Regions from separate parts of the Homo sapiens genome. Here region 2 is linked to region 1. Evidence: fine-mapped expression QTL. A gene starts in region 1. The other region holds a variant in brackets. All regions are shown on one strand. Distances are between the middles of the regions. Region 1 holds the start of CPLX3 (complexin 3). Region 2 overlaps CSK (C-terminal Src kinase).

Evidence for each region. PIP is the estimated chance that this variant, and not a neighbour inherited with it, causes the effect.
Region 2: its variant is fine-mapped to the expression of CPLX3 in whole blood (TOPMed, PIP above 0.99).

The regions. Positions count from the first base shown.
Region 1 is chr15:74,822,910-74,831,362 of GRCh38, forward strand. It overlaps CPLX3 (complexin 3), which reads left to right and starts at 3,718. Exons shown (of 3, transcript NM_001030005.3): 1 at 3,718-3,958; 2 at 5,125-5,212; 3 at 7,221-8,453. The coding sequence starts at 3,795. The coding sequence ends at 7,445. LMAN1L (lectin, mannose binding 1 like) reads left to right here. Exons shown (of 14, transcript NM_021819.3): 12 at 650-773; 13 at 1,442-1,569; 14 at 2,567-2,845. The coding sequence ends at 2,696. LOC105370897 (a long non-coding RNA gene) reads left to right here and starts at 5,223. Exons shown (of 2, transcript XR_932478.1): 1 at 5,223-5,979; 2 at 6,209-6,792. RefSeq lists an enhancer at 1-201 and a silencer at 3,700-3,907.
Region 2 is chr15:74,799,113-74,807,565 of GRCh38, forward strand. CSK (C-terminal Src kinase) reads left to right here. Exons shown (of 13, transcript NM_004383.3): 5 at 160-379; 6 at 1,300-1,393; 7 at 1,569-1,634; 8 at 1,711-1,810; 9 at 1,900-1,990; 10 at 2,410-2,483; 11 at 2,583-2,778; 12 at 2,885-2,971; 13 at 3,219-4,085. The coding sequence ends at 3,401. Among named protein-coding and RNA genes, the nearest start is that of LMAN1L, 9.5 kb to the right of the region's middle. RefSeq lists enhancers at 1-442, 718-1,569, 972-1,091, 1,096-1,390, 1,570-2,419. The variant G/A (reference allele first, on the strand shown) is at 4,912.

The DNA of each region.
Region 1 (8,453 bases):
AGCAATTCTCTCCTGGAGAAGCCCATCATGAAGGCCCCCTCAGACACTCCCACCCTCAGGAGGCTTAAGAAATCTGAGCATTCCTTCAATGGCAGCTCCTAGGATGAGGGGCATTTTGTTGGGGGCTCTTGGAGAGGGAGCACAGCCAAGATCAGACCAGTTGGATGAGACAGTCCCTGACTTGGTTTTGTGCCCCCATTAACTTCCCGGTATCCCACTCTAGGCCAGGCCTCTGGAGCCCTGGGGGTTGGGGGAGTCCTGGGGATGCTGTGGAGGAGGCATGCATCCCAGGCTGAAGCCTAAAGCCCCACCTGTACACACACAGCTAGATGCCTAGGGTTGGGGGTGGAGAGGCACCTAGATGAGAAGAAGGAAAGGAGTTAAATCCCCAGGGGCTGGGAATGGAAGGCAGAGCCGGGGAGCCTGGGGTTGACACAGATAGCTTTAGGGAGATCTTTATCTGAGCTAAAGTCTCAGGATCTAGGAAGAAGGTTGGAGGTGAAAAGACCAGCCCCCAAGAAGGGGCCCCATGGATGGTACCTGTTCCCCATCCATGTGCTGCCCTTGGGGAGATGGGAAATGATTAGGCCATCTGGGTGGAAGCAGAAGAGGTAATGAGTCATCTTACTTGGTTACCACCCCCGGTTAGGGATGCAGCTGTCCGCATGGCTGCAGAAGCCCAGGTCTCCTACCTGCCTGTGGGCATTGAGCATCATTTCTTAGAGCTGGACCACATCCTGGGCCTCCTGCAGGAGGAGCTTCGGGGCCCGGCGGTGAGGGGAAAGTAGTGGGCAGCATGGGGTCCCCAACCTTGACGTCTGGGCTCAGCCACCCTTCTTCCAGCACTTCAGCAGCCCCAAGCCCTCCTGCCTTTGCCCTCCCCTCCCAGGACTGCTGGCAAGCACATCTGTGCCTGCGTCAGTGTCTGTGTGTCCGTGCATACGTGCCACCACACATCTCATCTTTTCTCTGTCCTCTCTCCTCTCTGAAGAGTCCCACAGACTCAGCAGCAGCAGGGCCCTGGACACCCCTCGATCCAATATCCAATGACCAGAGGGGAAACAGGGTGGGCTGTGTCCAAGATCACTGAGTCCAGTGGTAGTCAGCGCTTCCCCATGCCCTGTCCCATCCTCGTTCCCTCGCCCTCACCCTGCTCACCCTGTCTTTGGCTCTTTACTTCTCTCTTCTCTTCTCTTGAACCCTGGGCCCCTTGATGATCCCAGGCCCCAGGCCTTCCCAGCTGTTCCCACAGATGCAGCCATGGGAGCTGGGGTGGGGGAGGCAGCTTTGTACACTGCCCCCTCTCCAAGTTCCCTGGATGAGAGCCAGGACGCCCCAAGCCTGGGGAAAGGAAACGGAGCATGCACATGGCCTAGATTCCAGGTCCCCCACTCCTTCTGGGTAAGAAGCTAAGCTAGGACCTTAGACTTTCCCCTTTCAGAAGGCAGCAGCCAAGGCCCCCCGCCCACCTGGCCAGCCCCCAAGGGCCTCCTCGTGCCTGCAGCCTGGCATCTTCCTGTTCTACCTCCTCATTCAGACTGTAGGCTTCTTCGGCTACGTGCACTTCAGGTGGGCCACCCCGTGAGCAGGATTTCCCACAGCACTGGCATCTCTTGGTTCTCAGCTATAACCATTGGATTTAGGAGAGGGGACACTTCAGCTCAGAGGGGACCTGCCGAGTCCCCAAATCACAAAGAGCACAGTGCGGGATAGGGCCCATTCTCTCACCAAGCACTACTGACCACCTGCTCGGCCCCCAGCCCCATCTGGGTCCTGCTCTCACGGAGCTCACTCACACAGGTCTAACTGACCCTGTGTCGTCAATGCCATGATGTCAGGAAGCTGAGGGGCTACGAGAGTGCAGGAGAACACACTTGACCCCCCTTGGTTAGGGAATCAACCTGGAAGGGACATTTGATATGGTCATTAAGGTGACTAGGAGTTTTCCACCCTGACAAGATAGGTAAAGGCATAGAGGCAGAGGGAACAGCATGAGAAAAGGCAGGGAGGCATGAGAAAAACATAATATTTTAGAGAAAAAGTGGCAAGTTCAGTAATGTTGGAGCAAAGGGCAGGACGAGTTTGTGAAATTGGGCAAAGAGATCTGAAAAAGTGAGAGGAGGTCACTAGTTTTGCTTGGTGTGTGTTTGCTGAATGAACGTGCACCGTTTAGAGATGTGGGGTGTGCTAAAGGCCTCAGCAATGAGACTGACAATCTTTGTTGGTGGAATTTCAAGACAAGAAGAGTCCGTGTGGGCTGGGATGGTCCTGGAGGAGGAGTAAAATGAGCTAAGCTTTAAAAAGCACAAGGTAGAAATGCTCACAGGCTTCAGCACATGCACAGGAGTGCAGTGGTGGCAATCAGCCTGGAGCCACTAGGACAGACCTTACATGCCCAGGGGGAAAGCGTGGACCATATGCAGCGGGCCAAAGGAGCCACAGAAAGTCCAAGAACAGCGGAGGTTGTGGTGCAGTGAGTGTAGCAAGGCAAGCATGAGAGTCCTGGTTTTTCAAAAGCCCATAAAGGAGAGACGCAAGTAACCTGTAACCTTCTCTCTGGCAGCAGGCAGGAGCTGAACAAGAGCCTTCAGGAGTGTCTGTCCACAGGCAGCCTTCCTCTGGGTCCTGCACCACACACCCCCAGGGCCCTGGGGATTCTGAGGAGGCAGCCTCTCCCTGCCAGCATGCCTGCCTGACCCACCTCAGAGCCTGCTTTGCATCACTGGGAAGCAGGCAGTGTCTTGGGTGGGGGCTTGGTCAGTATCCTCTCCGTCTGGGTGCCCAGCTCCCACGCACACCTGAGCTTTCGGCATGCTCCCACCTCGTTAAAGGTGATTTCCCTCTCCCCATGCTGTGATATGCTGGTCTTCTTTCCAGCCTCACCCTAATCTCTGTGAAGGCTTCCACCCCTTCTGAGTACCTGGCTGGGAGTGCGCTCCAAGCAGGCAAGGAGGCCAAGGCCTGGCTTAACCTCCAAAAGACCGGATACCCCACGGGCTTTGAACCCTCGACTATGGAGGGAAAGAGAGCCATGACTGTATATAATTCTGTCCTCAAACTCACCCATAACAGAGAGCAGTGTCTCCCAGTGTCCCTCCTGGCCCAGCTCAGCCAGCATCACTGAGCAGCTCTCTCCCTCCCCACTCCTAGCTGCTCCAGGGGCAGCAGGGGAGGCGCGTGACAGAGCAACCCTGAGAGGCCAACTCGTGGAACCATAACTGGGATTCCCGCTCGCGCCCTCAGGTCTCCCTCCCTTTTCCAGCGTCAAGCTCTCTGGGCAGCTGCTGGGTTCAGTGACTTGGGTGGGTGGGGAGAATGGGGGGCACCCAAGGCTGGGTTTTTACCCCTTGCTGCTACCTGGATCTCCCAGCTGAAATCCTAGTTATTAGTGGCCCAGGAGAGGAGAAAGTTGGAAGAGGCTATGGAACAGGGTTCCGGGAGTGTATGAGCTCAACCCCTCTCCCGGGAGAGCGACCCCACCACCGCAGGCCCTAATCCTCTGTCAGCAGTGCCCAGCGGAGCTCGGCGTTGAAGGAGGCACGTGGGGGAGGCGGGAGTGGGGAGCGGGCACGTGGTCCAGCCTTCTCAGCCCCGTGCTGCCCCCCGCCCCCAGTGAGGAGGGGTTTGGGGAGGTGGGGGCGGGCCCGGGCGGGGGCGGGCGGCGGGCGGTGCCAAGCGTGGGGCGCGGGCCCGCGGCGGGAGCTGTCCGCGAAACCTAGTGCTGAAGTAGGCGCGGACGTGCCCGGTGCCTGGCGCGTGGTAGCAGGCGCCCGGTGCCCCGGCCGGCGAAGACCATGGCGTTCATGGTGAAGACCATGGTGGGCGGCCAGCTGAAGAACCTCACTGGGAGCCTGGGAGGCGGCGAGGATAAGGGAGATGGGGACAAGTCGGCAGCCGAAGCTCAGGGCATGAGCCGGGAGGAGTACGAGGAGTATCAGAAGCAACTCGTGGAAGAGAAGTGAGTGGGATCCCTTCCTGGCTCCAACGACCTCCCCTCCCCACCCCCACAGCTGCTCAGTCCATCCCCGGGCCAGCCTCAGGTCCCAATCCCTTCTCCCCTACTTTCCTAGACACGGTAAGAGACCGGGAGGTGTCCTCTACACTGCCCCCAGACCCATCCTATCTGACACCCAAAACCCCGCTCCAGCATCATGCTCCGGCCAAGGGGGAGTGGGGGGAGGGGCGACCGGACGAGGGACCGACCGGAGCCTGGGACGAGGAAGGGGGTGCACGTGCGTTTCTGACGAAACGATAATCCCTTAATCCGATCTGGTCCCAGCCGCCTATGTCTTCCAACTGGGGCTCCTCTGAACTTGAGGCTCTGAAAAAAGTGGTGCAGCCGCTCAGAGTCGCGGAGACAGACCCTGAGATGGGGGCACTCACAAACATTGAGCACTTGTGTGCCCGCAGTGCTGGGACAGAGTTTGGGGCTGGACTCTGCTGCTAGGCTACTTGGGTTCAGAGCCTGGCTTTGCCTATTAGCTGGATAACTTTAGGCAAGTTACTTAACCTTTCTGTGCCTCTGTTTCCTTTTCTGGAAAGTGGGGATGGTAATCATAATACATGCCTTGTATATTTATGAAGATTAAATGCCAATGCATGTAAACTGTTTAGCACAGCACCTGGCACATGATAAAGTCTCATAAATGATAGCTATTATTTCGCTCAATCCTGATAACAGTTTTGTGAGTTGCAAAATTTTATCCCCATTTTACAGAAGAGGAAGGTAAGTGACTTACCTAAGGATATACCTAAAATGGTAGTGGAGCTGGGATGTGAACCCAAGTTTGGCCTGAATACTTTTCCCCACATGACATAGCTTGTCAGTGAGGGAACAGCAGACCAAGTTGGAGGCCATGAGGGACAAATAATTAGGATCTGCAGAGAGAGCCAGACAGACTGCCACCCTGGTTCCCTAGTTCCATCCAGTGGCAGAGACGACAAAGGGCACTGTGATGGGCAGAGGCAGCAGAAACCTGGATGTCCGGGTTGGAGCGCTTTTGCTACACACAGGGACCAATGCAGCAGCTGCTAGGACTCAGAGACCCCTTCTGTCCCTCCCTCGAAGACCTCAACCCCCTTCTCTCAGCCCTCGTGGTGACTCTGCCTCCGGTGACCCTGCAGGATGGAGCGGGATGCACAGTTCACACAGAGGAAGGCAGAGCGGGCCACACTGCGGAGCCACTTCCGAGACAAATACCGGCTACCCAAGGTAAGCTGGCCCCGGCTGTGAGGCACATCTGGGACCCTGAGCTCTGGGTTCTGGACTCCTTCGCCCCATTCTGGGCACCACAGCCCTCAGCTATGAGACTCACAGGGTATTTGGTTAGATCCTTCCTTCTCATTCATTTGTTCTTTTATTCATTCACTCACTCGTAGTTAAATCTGTGCCCACCAAGGGCCAGGGCTTTGTGCTGAGGGGACCCCAGTCCTCATGAGACTGACAGGTCTGTATTTCTGGAGCCAATCTAGGCCTCTTCTCTCCTCCACCCCCCATATCCCCACCAAGCCTGGGCCAGGCCTGGGCAGAGGAAGACACAGGGGAGGCAGAAATCAGTAGATTTGACTGCAGAGGTGAGTGTTCTGGGGGTTTCTGAACCTACTGAAGGGCAGAACTTACTTAAGGTGGGGGAGAGAAGCCCTGTGTGTGCCAAGTACTTGACCTTCATGTCCTCATCTAACCCCCAATAATGCTGCCAGGCAGCTATCACCCACAGCGACAAAAGATGAAACTGAGGCTAAGAGAAATGGAGGGACTTGGCTAAGATCATACAGCCAGTGAGCCATGGAGCTGGGACCAGCCCTCAAGCCGGTGAATATGAGCCTGCCTTTGCTCCAGGGCCCCAGGCTGCTTTCCAGAGTATGGAGTCTGCCCGTAGAGAGCCAAGTACCCCCTTGGCCGGCCAAGCAGCCAGAGAGTATATCTCAGGAGATCCCTGCCCCCACGCTCCCCTGGGCAGTGCACCACCAGATGGGCGTGTAAGTGTGCTGCTCCTGTTGTCTAAGGAGGGGAATGAAGCACAAATCTCTCCCAGAATATCACCCTAGTGCATCCAGAACTGTGCTGGACTCAGGGGAAAACAGCACAGGGCTATAGCGCTCCTGATTTTGATCTTCCACTTGAATTGAATGACCAAATATATGAACATCACATTCACTCATTCAACAAATATTTACTGAGTCCCCAGCTGCTTCTGACTCCCCACAGGGCACCAATCTTTTGGAAATCTGTCACGGGGAAAAACCGGTCCAGAAAGCCTGCCTCACTGCAAACTCTTCTAGGAATAAAATCATTCCTCAGATGCTTGCGCTAGGCATATAAGAGACACCTGCCATCAGCAAAGTCAGAGTTGAGCAGAAGAGCCAAGACTTGGATGCAACTGAGTAGGACATAAGGCGCCCCCCAGAAGAATAGTGAAGGGCAATGGTCATCGTAGGTGCCATGCAAAAAAACACAGATGTTGGAATCAGTGACATAGGTTTGAATCTAGCTCCCCAACATCCTGCCTGTGTGATCTTGGATAATTTAAGTTACTTAAGTTACTTAAGTTAGTTAAGTAACTTAAATTTAAAGTAAGTTACTTAAATCCTGTAAGCCTCAATTTCCTTATTTGTGAAGTGGAAATAACAATACCTACCTACCTCACAGGGTTATTGTGAGAATTAAAAGCACCCAGCTCAACGTCTGCCATGTAATAGATATAATAGATGTTTGATAAATGGTACCCATCACTATTTTTGGTTACACCCTTAAGCATAACAAGAGTCAAAACATGACTTAGCTGACTGTAACAGTGTGACTCATAGGTATTTTCATTTTGTCTTTACTCACTGTGCTGGTCCTTCAGCATCTCAGAGTGAAATAAGGTAATATAAAAAGGTCTCCATGTCCAGGCATCAAACGCTTGATCCTGGGATGTGGGGGTGGGAGCTGAGCTCACTGGAACATGGGGCTCAAGAATCTAAGGGGCCGGGCACAGTGGCTCATTCCTGTATTCCCCCGGCACTTTGGGAGGCCAAGGTGGGCATATCACTTGAGCCCAGGAGTTTGAGACCAGCGTGGGCAACATAGGGAGACCTCGTCTCTACAAAAAAAAAAAAAAAGAAAAAATAGAATCTAGGGGCCTGGAACCCAGTCCAAGCCTCCTCCCTGTCCTCTCAACTCTGGGTCCTCACAGACTTCCACTCCACCCCACCCCCTCTTCCCCTCTTCCCTTCAGAACGAGACAGATGAGAGCCAGATCCAGATGGCAGGTGGAGACGTGGAGCTGCCCCGGGAGCTGGCCAAGATGATCGAGGAGGACACAGAGGAGGAGGAGGAGAAGGCCTCAGTCCTTGGGCAGCTGGCCAGCCTTCCTGGCTTGAACCTGGGCTCACTCAAGGACAAGGCCCAGGCCACACTGGGGGATCTCAAGCAATCAGCTGAGAAGTGTCACGTCATGTGACCACTTCCCCGGGGTTACCCACTGGGCTGGGCCCCCATGAGGGCTAAGAGTGTGTCAACTTCCAGGGACCCATACTCCATTTGGGGCTTTGTTTCCCTTGCCCCATCCTAGTTCCAAGACCTTTCCCATCCATGCCCCAAGCCTATCTTCTGGTTTCTTCCTCTCCGCTGGGAGTAAAGTCCCCATCTTCACTCTACCCTTCAGGACCCTCCCCACCAGCTCAGCCTGTGGAGGCCTCCCAAGATTGTAGGAATAGGCCCATCCCTCTCTGGCCATGGCCCCAAGTTCCTGCACACAGGAGCACCCACAGAGAGACACACACAGGACACAAAACCCCTGGCACGTTCAGAGACAGAAGCCACAGATACATCCCGGCACAGACAGACACACACGAGGCCAGCTCCCTTGCGTGTCCAGCCCCTCCAGACACCACCACTCAGAAACTCTGAGAGAGAGCATGGGCAGACACCCTCAGCAGACAGGAGGCCTGAGTTCCAGTCTCCACCTTTATTGTTCTTGAAAGCCCCTGCTCTCTCTGAGCCTTATTTCATCATCTGTAAAATGGGAATGTCCTGAATGACTTCTAAGGCTCTTTCTGGCTTGAACTGTCAGAGCCAAGCCCACATCCCTCCTTGGGCAGGGCAGCAGCTGCTGCCACAGCCTCCAGCGGCTGCCACTGTGGGCTCTGGGAGCCGGAGCGATGCTGTGTGAGAGGCAGAGTGCCAAGGATGAAGCTGGCACTGAACAGTAAGCGGCTCCAGGCCTCCTCTGGGCCCAGGGCCCAGCCAATTTCTGTTCTGTTCCTGTAGAACGCTCTCTGGATTCCATAGCTGGAATCTCCTCTCTTAGCTCAGTGAAAAATAAAAATCCCAAATGGTGTGCCTACCTTCCCACTTCTTACTGGCTTCCAGGAGTCTTGGAGTTCATAGCCCCCCGAGCCTGCCTTAAAGGGGTGTCCTCCACCCCCCACCTACAGCTTCACAGGAGGGGAGAAGGCATCCAGTGCTA
Region 2 (8,453 bases), 24 kb before region 1:
GGGTGGCAAAGAAGGGACAGGGAGCAGAAGAAGAGGGCCTCAAATGCCTGACTGAGCGAGTGCGAGCCACGGGTGCCAAGCAGAGGGAACCCCTTCAGAAAGGGGAGCCAGGGTCAGTACCTTTGGGCCACCATGACCTCCAGCCCTGCTGCTCCCCAGTTGGTTCCACGGCAAGATCACACGGGAGCAGGCTGAGCGGCTTCTGTACCCGCCGGAGACAGGCCTGTTCCTGGTGCGGGAGAGCACCAACTACCCCGGAGACTACACGCTGTGCGTGAGCTGCGACGGCAAGGTGGAGCACTACCGCATCATGTACCATGCCAGCAAGCTCAGCATCGACGAGGAGGTGTACTTTGAGAACCTCATGCAGCTGGTGGAGGTGAGCTGGGGGGTACAGAGCCTTGCTCCCACCCTCACACACCCTAAACCCATCTGGGGCCCTGGCTTCTAGCTCCAGCCCCACTGCTTCTGCGTGGTGACCAGCCATGTGGGGCAACTTCTGTGAGCCCTTGTTTCCTCACACCTTGGTGGAGCAGCTGCTGCGTGCCAGGACTCACCTCTGACCCCACAGTGCCACCATGAGGAGGGGAGCCTTATCCTCATTTTATAGACCAGGAGTTGAAGGTTCAGAGCAGTTAGGGGACCCACCTGAGGTCCCACAGATATAATTTGGTGCCAGGACTAGAATCTGAGTCTGTCTGATCCCAGAGCTAACTTTCCTCCAGCCACTCACAGACCTGCATGCTCAGAAGCGTGTGCAGAAACATGAGCCATGCGCCTTGATCGCCAGGGCCCCTGAGGCTCTCGCACCTGCACGGACATGCCCACAGGTCCCTGCAGCTTCCCAGGCCAGCTCTGCCAGCCCTGGCCAGGCCACACCTGGCATCCGGTAGCCACAGGAAGCCTCCCGTGTCCCTCTGTATTCACTCTTATCTCCCTCCCCTACTGGCCTGGCTTGGCCTGTGGCAGGTGAGGGTGGGGTCCTGGGCACTCCTGGCTAGAGGCTGGTTTCAGGACTGAGCCATGGGTTGCCCTCTGCATCAGATACCCATGGGGCCCAGAGTGGTAGCAGCAGCTGAGTGTCCAGCAACCGCATGTAGGGTGGCATGGGAAATGGGCCATACGTCATAATCTGGGACTTCCCTAACCCCTGCCCTACCAGAAATGGGGAGCCCTCCCCACTCAGTGACTCCAGGCTAGGCGGGGCTGGCCTCTGCCGCCCTCTGGTGGTCAGGCCTGGACGGTGCATATGGGGCACCTTGGGCTGTCTCTGAGCACCCTGCCCCCCACACCCTGCAGCACTACACCTCAGACGCAGATGGACTCTGTACGCGCCTCATTAAACCAAAGGTCATGGAGGGCACAGTGGCGGCCCAGGATGAGTTCTACCGCAGTGAGTGCACCCCACCCCAGACCTCTTGCCCACCCACCTCCTCCCACGCAGGCTTCCTGGCACTGCCCCATCCAGGAACCTCCAGAGAACCCCAGTGCCTGATAGTCCAGTCAGCCTCTGTCATCCCAGCCATGTCCCTAGTGGCCTCCAGGCCCTCACTGGCCCCTCCCCACAGGCGGCTGGGCCCTGAACATGAAGGAGCTGAAGCTGCTGCAGACCATCGGGAAGGGGGAGTTCGGAGGTGAGCTGGGCCGGGCCCCCTGGGGGGGTTCTGAGGGACTCCGAACTTGGGAACAAGACCACCTCTCTGCCCCCAGACGTGATGCTGGGCGATTACCGAGGGAACAAAGTCGCCGTCAAGTGCATTAAGAACGACGCCACTGCCCAGGCCTTCCTGGCTGAAGCCTCAGTCATGACGTGAGTGGGGGCGGGGTAGGGGGGAGGTTGGCCTAGGTTAGGAGTGAGGCACCAGCTTCCCCTTTCTGACCACTCTCGTCCTGCCCCAGGCAACTGCGGCATAGCAACCTGGTGCAGCTCCTGGGCGTGATCGTGGAGGAGAAGGGCGGGCTCTACATCGTCACTGAGTACATGGCCAAGGTGGGCACCTGCCGAGACCCGGCACTCAGGCCTTCCAACTGCCCCGAAACCCCCACTGTGCTCTAGGGCCCCTGCTCCCTCAGTCCCCCGACCCCAAGTGAGCTTTTAGGTCACCAGGGCTGGGCTTTTGTCCTGGTTTACCATTCATTGACTGTAACATTGGACAAATCATGTCACCTCCAAGCCTCAGCATCACATCTGGGAAATGGAGATAATAACAACTTAGAGATTTGTGAGAGTCAAGGGATAAGGCATGAATAACACAGAGCAGTGTCCGGCATGGATGTTCTGGCCCCTCCCCACTCCTTCCCTGTCTCACACCTCCCTGGAGTGTCAACACCCACCCGGCCCCAGCGTGCTGTGTGAGAGGGCTGCAGGGCACGTCTGACCTCGGCCTGGTCTGTCCTTCCTGCCCCCAGGGGAGCCTTGTGGACTACCTGCGGTCTAGGGGTCGGTCAGTGCTGGGCGGAGACTGTCTCCTCAAGTTCTCGCTGTGAGTGAAGCAGCCTCTTGGATGGGTAGGGTTTGAGGGGTACCCTGCCCTGCTATGGGAGCCCCAGTCTGAGGGGACATGTGGCTGGCCTACCCCCAGAGATGTCTGCGAGGCCATGGAATACCTGGAGGGCAACAATTTCGTGCATCGAGACCTGGCTGCCCGCAATGTGCTGGTGTCTGAGGACAACGTGGCCAAGGTCAGCGACTTTGGTCTCACCAAGGAGGCGTCCAGCACCCAGGACACGGGCAAGCTGCCAGTCAAGTGGACAGCCCCTGAGGCCCTGAGAGAGAAGGTGGGGCTGGCCTCCCCTGGGGCCTACAGAGGTGGGCAGGAGTCCTGGGTCACTCCCCACCCTGGAGTCCCAGGATCTGACGCTGCTTCTTCCATCCACATGGCAGAAATTCTCCACTAAGTCTGACGTGTGGAGTTTCGGAATCCTTCTCTGGGAAATCTACTCCTTTGGGCGAGTGCCTTATCCAAGAATTGTGAGTATGGGTACTGGGATCAGGGTGGCTCTTGGAGCACCGGAGGGGTTGGCAGGGGCGTGAGCCTCCTTGGGCCCTGCCTCCCCAATCAAGGCCTAGAAGCCTCAGGCCTGCCCTGGGGAGCTCACAGGCCACTCTCCGGGCCTGGGTCTGCGGCAAAGCTGATGGGCATCCCTGAGAGGCTGCTGGGTAGGTGTCCTCTCTGAGGCCAGGGCCTGGACTGACTCCTGCCTCCCCCTGGCCACAGCCCCTGAAGGACGTCGTCCCTCGGGTGGAGAAGGGCTACAAGATGGATGCCCCCGACGGCTGCCCGCCCGCAGTCTATGAAGTCATGAAGAACTGCTGGCACCTGGACGCCGCCATGCGGCCCTCCTTCCTACAGCTCCGAGAGCAGCTTGAGCACATCAAAACCCACGAGCTGCACCTGTGACGGCTGGCCTCCGCCTGGGTCATGGGCCTGTGGGGACTGAACCTGGAAGATCATGGACCTGGTGCCCCTGCTCACTGGGCCCGAGCCTGAACTGAGCCCCAGCGGGCTGGCGGGCCTTTTTCCTGCGTCCCAGCCTGCACCCCTCCGGCCCCGTCTCTCTTGGACCCACCTGTGGGGCCTGGGGAGCCCACTGAGGGGCCAGGGAGGAAGGAGGCCACGGAGCGGGAGGCAGCGCCCCACCACGTCGGGCTTCCCTGGCCTCCCGCCACTCGCCTTCTTAGAGTTTTATTCCTTTCCTTTTTTGAGATTTTTTTTCCGTGTGTTTATTTTTTATTATTTTTCAAGATAAGGAGAAAGAAAGTACCCAGCAAATGGGCATTTTACAAGAAGTACGAATCTTATTTTTCCTGTCCTGCCCGTGAGGGTGGGGGGGACCGGGCCCCTCTCTAGGGACCCCTCGCCCCAGCCTCATTCCCCATTCTGTGTCCCATGTCCCGTGTCTCCTCGGTCGCCCCGTGTTTGCGCTTGACCATGTTGCACTGTTTGCATGCGCCCGAGGCAGACGTCTGTCAGGGGCTTGGATTTCGTGTGCCGCTGCCACCCGCCCACCCGCCTTGTGAGATGGAATTGTAATAAACCACGCCATGAGGACACCGCCGCCCGCCTCGGCGCTTCCTCCACCGAGCCTGCTTGTCCTGCCCGGTCGTCCCTCCCATGCCATCTTGTCCATCCCCCTGTGTCTGTGAGTGGGGCTGGGTGGGGAGCATGGCTGGGAGATGTAGCCGCCGCTTTGTGTCAGCTGCACGAGTGAGTGTCCTTGTGTCTGCCCTCCGGGAAGTGCTCACCAGTTGCCCTGCTGCCGCCAGGCCCAGCTCCGGGGCCCCATCTACAGGATGCTGCCTGGGGGTTCCAGCTGCCTCCCCTGCTGTTTTCAAGCCTGCCGCACAAGGAGGGCTACAGCTAGGGATGGGAGGGAGCCCAGGCCTGCACAGATGGGAACGGGGTTCTAGTCAAGCCCCCTGTGCAAGAGAGAGAAAAAGCAATGGTGGGCCCAGTGGGCTTCCTCTGGCAGGAGGAGAAGTGTCTCATGCCTGAGAAGATGCTGACCCGGAGAGGGACGGGAAAGCTCCTGGTGGTTCTCCAGTTTCACCCACGATGTCACAGCTTTGCCCTGTCCCCACCCCTGCCATGTGCCAGGCCTTAGGTCATACCAGACTTGGCAGGGGTTGAGGATGCAGGGCAGAGGGGAGATCCTGGCACCTTCCAGTCAGGGGGAGTCCCTCCCCACCCCACCTTGTCGGGGAACATATAGAGAATGTGGACCAGCCATGAGATTTTCTCCCCTCACTCAGGTTGTCCAGGGGCAGTGGTCAGTACAGAACCTCTGAAGGTGTGAGGAGGCTTCATGTATTCCCTGAGGCAGGCAGGTGGGGTGTTCCCCTGTCCTGTTGTGGCCCCGACCCTTCCTCTACCAGCCAACAGGACCTGAAATCCAGGAAGATCTGACTTC[G/A]AAGTCTACCTTGTGTCTGTTCCTCAGCCCCACTGTAGTTCCATCTACCAGTGCAACAGCCTCCTCGCCGCCTCCACTTCATCTTCTCTGCATACTGCCAGACTTAATTTTTCTAAAACTACACCATTCATTCAACAACAAATATTTGAATACCTGCTGTTTGCTAGGACTGAGGTTCATCAATAAGCAAAACACACCCTGTGGAGTCCACAGTTGGGAAGACAATCAAATAGTCACATATAGACAGTGACAAACTTAAGTGCTACATGAGGAACACAAAACATGGGAATCTTTGTAGATCAGGGAGGGCTTCTGGAAAGAAGCAGCGTTTAAGCTGAGATCAGAAGCAGAATGAACAGGTTGTATGGCAGGAGTTAGCAGCATTCCAGGAAGAGATGCTGAGACTGGAGGGAGGGCAGCTTTGTCTCAGATCTCCAAGAAAGTGGGTGAGGATGGACGAACAGCCAGGCCTGAGAGGTGAGGCTGTGGCTGTGGCAAAGACTTAGCTTTTATCAAACAGAGAATAATGGGAAGCCAATGACAAGTTTGATCAGGAGGGTGAGATGTCAGATAATTTTTGTTTGTTTGTTTGTTTTTGAGAAGAAGTCTTACTCTGTCACCCAGGCTGGAGTGCAGTGGTGCCATCTCAGCTCACTGCAACCTCCAGCTCCTGGGTTCAAGCGATTGTCTTGCCTCAGCCTCCCAAGTAACTGGGATTACAACAGGCATGCGCCACCATGCCTGGCTAATTTTTGTATTTTTAGTGGAAACGGGGTTTCGCCGTGTTGCCCAGACTGGTCTCAAACTCCTGACCTCAGGTGATCCACCACCTCGGCCTCCCAAAGTGCTGGGATTACAGGCGTGAGCCACTGCACGCGGCCCAGATATGTGTTTTTGAAATCACCCTAGCTACTGGTAGAGGAGTTTCAGAGAGTACAGTGAGGACTGGTCCAGATGAGAGACGGTCTCCAGAGAGATTTAGCTCCAGAGCTAAAATTGACCGAACTTGGCTATGGATTCAGTGTGAGAGTGGAGGAGAGGGAAGGGCCGTAGCAAGGCCTGATTGAGCAGAACGGATGCAGGGAGGGCAGCAGGGGGCATCTGCTGAGCGAGGACAGGAGACTCATGCTTAGGAGGGAGTATCATGAGCTCTGTTAAGGACATGTTAAGGTTTTTGTTGTTTTGAGACAGGGTCTCGTTCTGACACCCAGGCTGGAGTCCAGTGGTGCAAACACAGCTCACTACAGCCTTGACCTCCCAGGCTGAAGCAGTCCTCCTGCCTCAGCCTCTCAAGTAGCTGGGACTACAAGTGCCTGCCACCATGACTGGCTAATTTTTAAATTTTTTGTAGAGACGAGGTCTCCCTATGTTGTCTAGGCTAGCCTTGAACGCCTGGGCTCAAGCAGTCCTCCCACCTCGGCCTCCCAAAGTGTTGGGATTACAGGCGTGAGCCACCACACCAAGCCACACATTGAGTTTTAAGTGAGGCTTTGAAACTGCCAAGAAGCTGGGCGCGGCGGCTCACGCCTGTAATCCCAACACTTCAGGAGGCCAAGGCCAGTGGATCACTTGAGGTCAGGAGTTAGAGACCAGCCTGACCAACATGGTGAAACCTCGTCTCTACTAAAAATATAAAATTAGCTGGGCGCAGTGGTGCACACCTGTAATCCCAGCTACTCTGGAGGCTGAGGCAGGAGAATTGCTTGAACCCAGGAGGCAGAAGTTGCAGTGAGCCGGGATCATGCCACTGCACTCCAGCCTGGGCAACAAGACCAAAACTGCATCTCTCAAAAAAAAAAAAGGTCAAGAAGAGGAGGTTGACCATGCCAGTGCCATGTCGTAAAAGCCAAGGAAAAAGAACTTCAAGAGGAGGAAGCCACCAGGGTCCCCGCCTCCCAGAAGGCACAGAGATGGAGGCTGAGTCTGCCCCTTGGTTTTTATTTATGTATTTATATTTATTTTTTGAGACAGAGTCTCACTCTGTCACCGAGGCTGGAGTGCAATGGCACGATCTCGGCTCACTGCAAGCTCCACCTCTCAGGTTCACACCATTCTCCTGCCTCAGCCTCCCGAGTAGCTGGGACTACAGGCGCCTGCCACCACTCTCGGCTAATTTTTTGTAGTTTTAGTAGAGACGGGGTTTCACTGTGTTAGCCAGGATGGTCTTGATCTCCTGACCTCGTGATCCACCCGCCTTGGCCTCCCAAAGTGCTGGGATTACGGGCGTGAGCCACCATGCCTGGCTATTTATTTTTTTTGAAATGGAGTCTCGCTCTGTCGCCAAAGCCAGAGAGCACTGGCACAATCTCAGCTCACTGCAACCTCCACCTCCCAAATTCAAGCAATTCTCCTGCCTCAGCCTCCCAAGTAGCTGGGATTACAGGTGCCCACCACCACGCCTGGCTAATTTTTGTATTTTTAGTAGAGACAGGGTTTTGCCATGTTGGCCATGCTGGTCTTGAACTCCTCACCTCAGTGATTCATCCATCTCGGCCTCCCAAAGTGCTGGGATTACAGGCATGAGCCACTGCACCTGGCCAAACTGCCCCTTGGTTTTAGCCACAATGTCTGTGTTGATAAGGGCTGATTCCAGATCACAGTGACTAGAGAAGGGTGTGAGAAACGCAAGAGGTGGACAGTCTGAGAAATGAAGTTGTAATGGAGAGATGAGAGAGGAAGAGTGACAGGAGGATGTGGTGGATTTAGGGTTTTTTTCTTTTTCTTTTTCTTTTTTTTTTTTTTTTGAGATGGAGTCTCGATCTGTCACCTAGGCTGGAGTGCAGTGGCGCAATCTCAGCTCACTGCAACCTCAGCCTCCCGGGTTCAAGTGATTCTCCTGCCTCAGCCTCCTGAGTAGCTGGGACTACAGGTGCCCACCACCACACCCAGCTAATTTTTGTATTTTTAGTACAGACAGGGTTTCACCATGTTGGCCAGGCTGGTCTCGATCTCTTGACCTCCCAAAGTGCTGGGATTACAGGCATGAGCCACCGCACCCGGCTGGTAGATTTAAGACAGCAGAGTCTTGAGCAAATTTGGCTGCCAAAGGGAAGGACATTGACCTTTAAATTGTACTGAGTACTGAGAGTGAGGCAAGAGATATAGACAGGAGGGGTGGTATGTAGATGGTAGAGCCTTCCTTAGAGCAGGGGGTGGGTGGTGGGAACCCAGAACATGGGGGAACCGGCCTGAGATGGGAGAGGGATAGTCCCTCCGCAAGTGCAGAGAAGGAGGGAGACTCAGGCAGTGGTGCACTGATGAATGTTTAATATCCAAATCTAGGACACGGGCTGGGTGGGGTAGCTCTGATTTATAGCATTTGCTGATATCCGCGGAGTTAATACTCTGACTGTGGTCAATTTCAAGCACCAATCTGACTTCACTGAATACAGCGCTGGATGGGGATTCCAGCAATCAGCTCTCACAGCTGGTCCAAGCCAGCTAGGATTCAGAAACCCACAGTGAAGCCCGTGGCTATAGGGTCACAACAGGGGCCAGCCAAGCAACACAACAGAGATGGGCCAGGCATAAAACAACAGGAG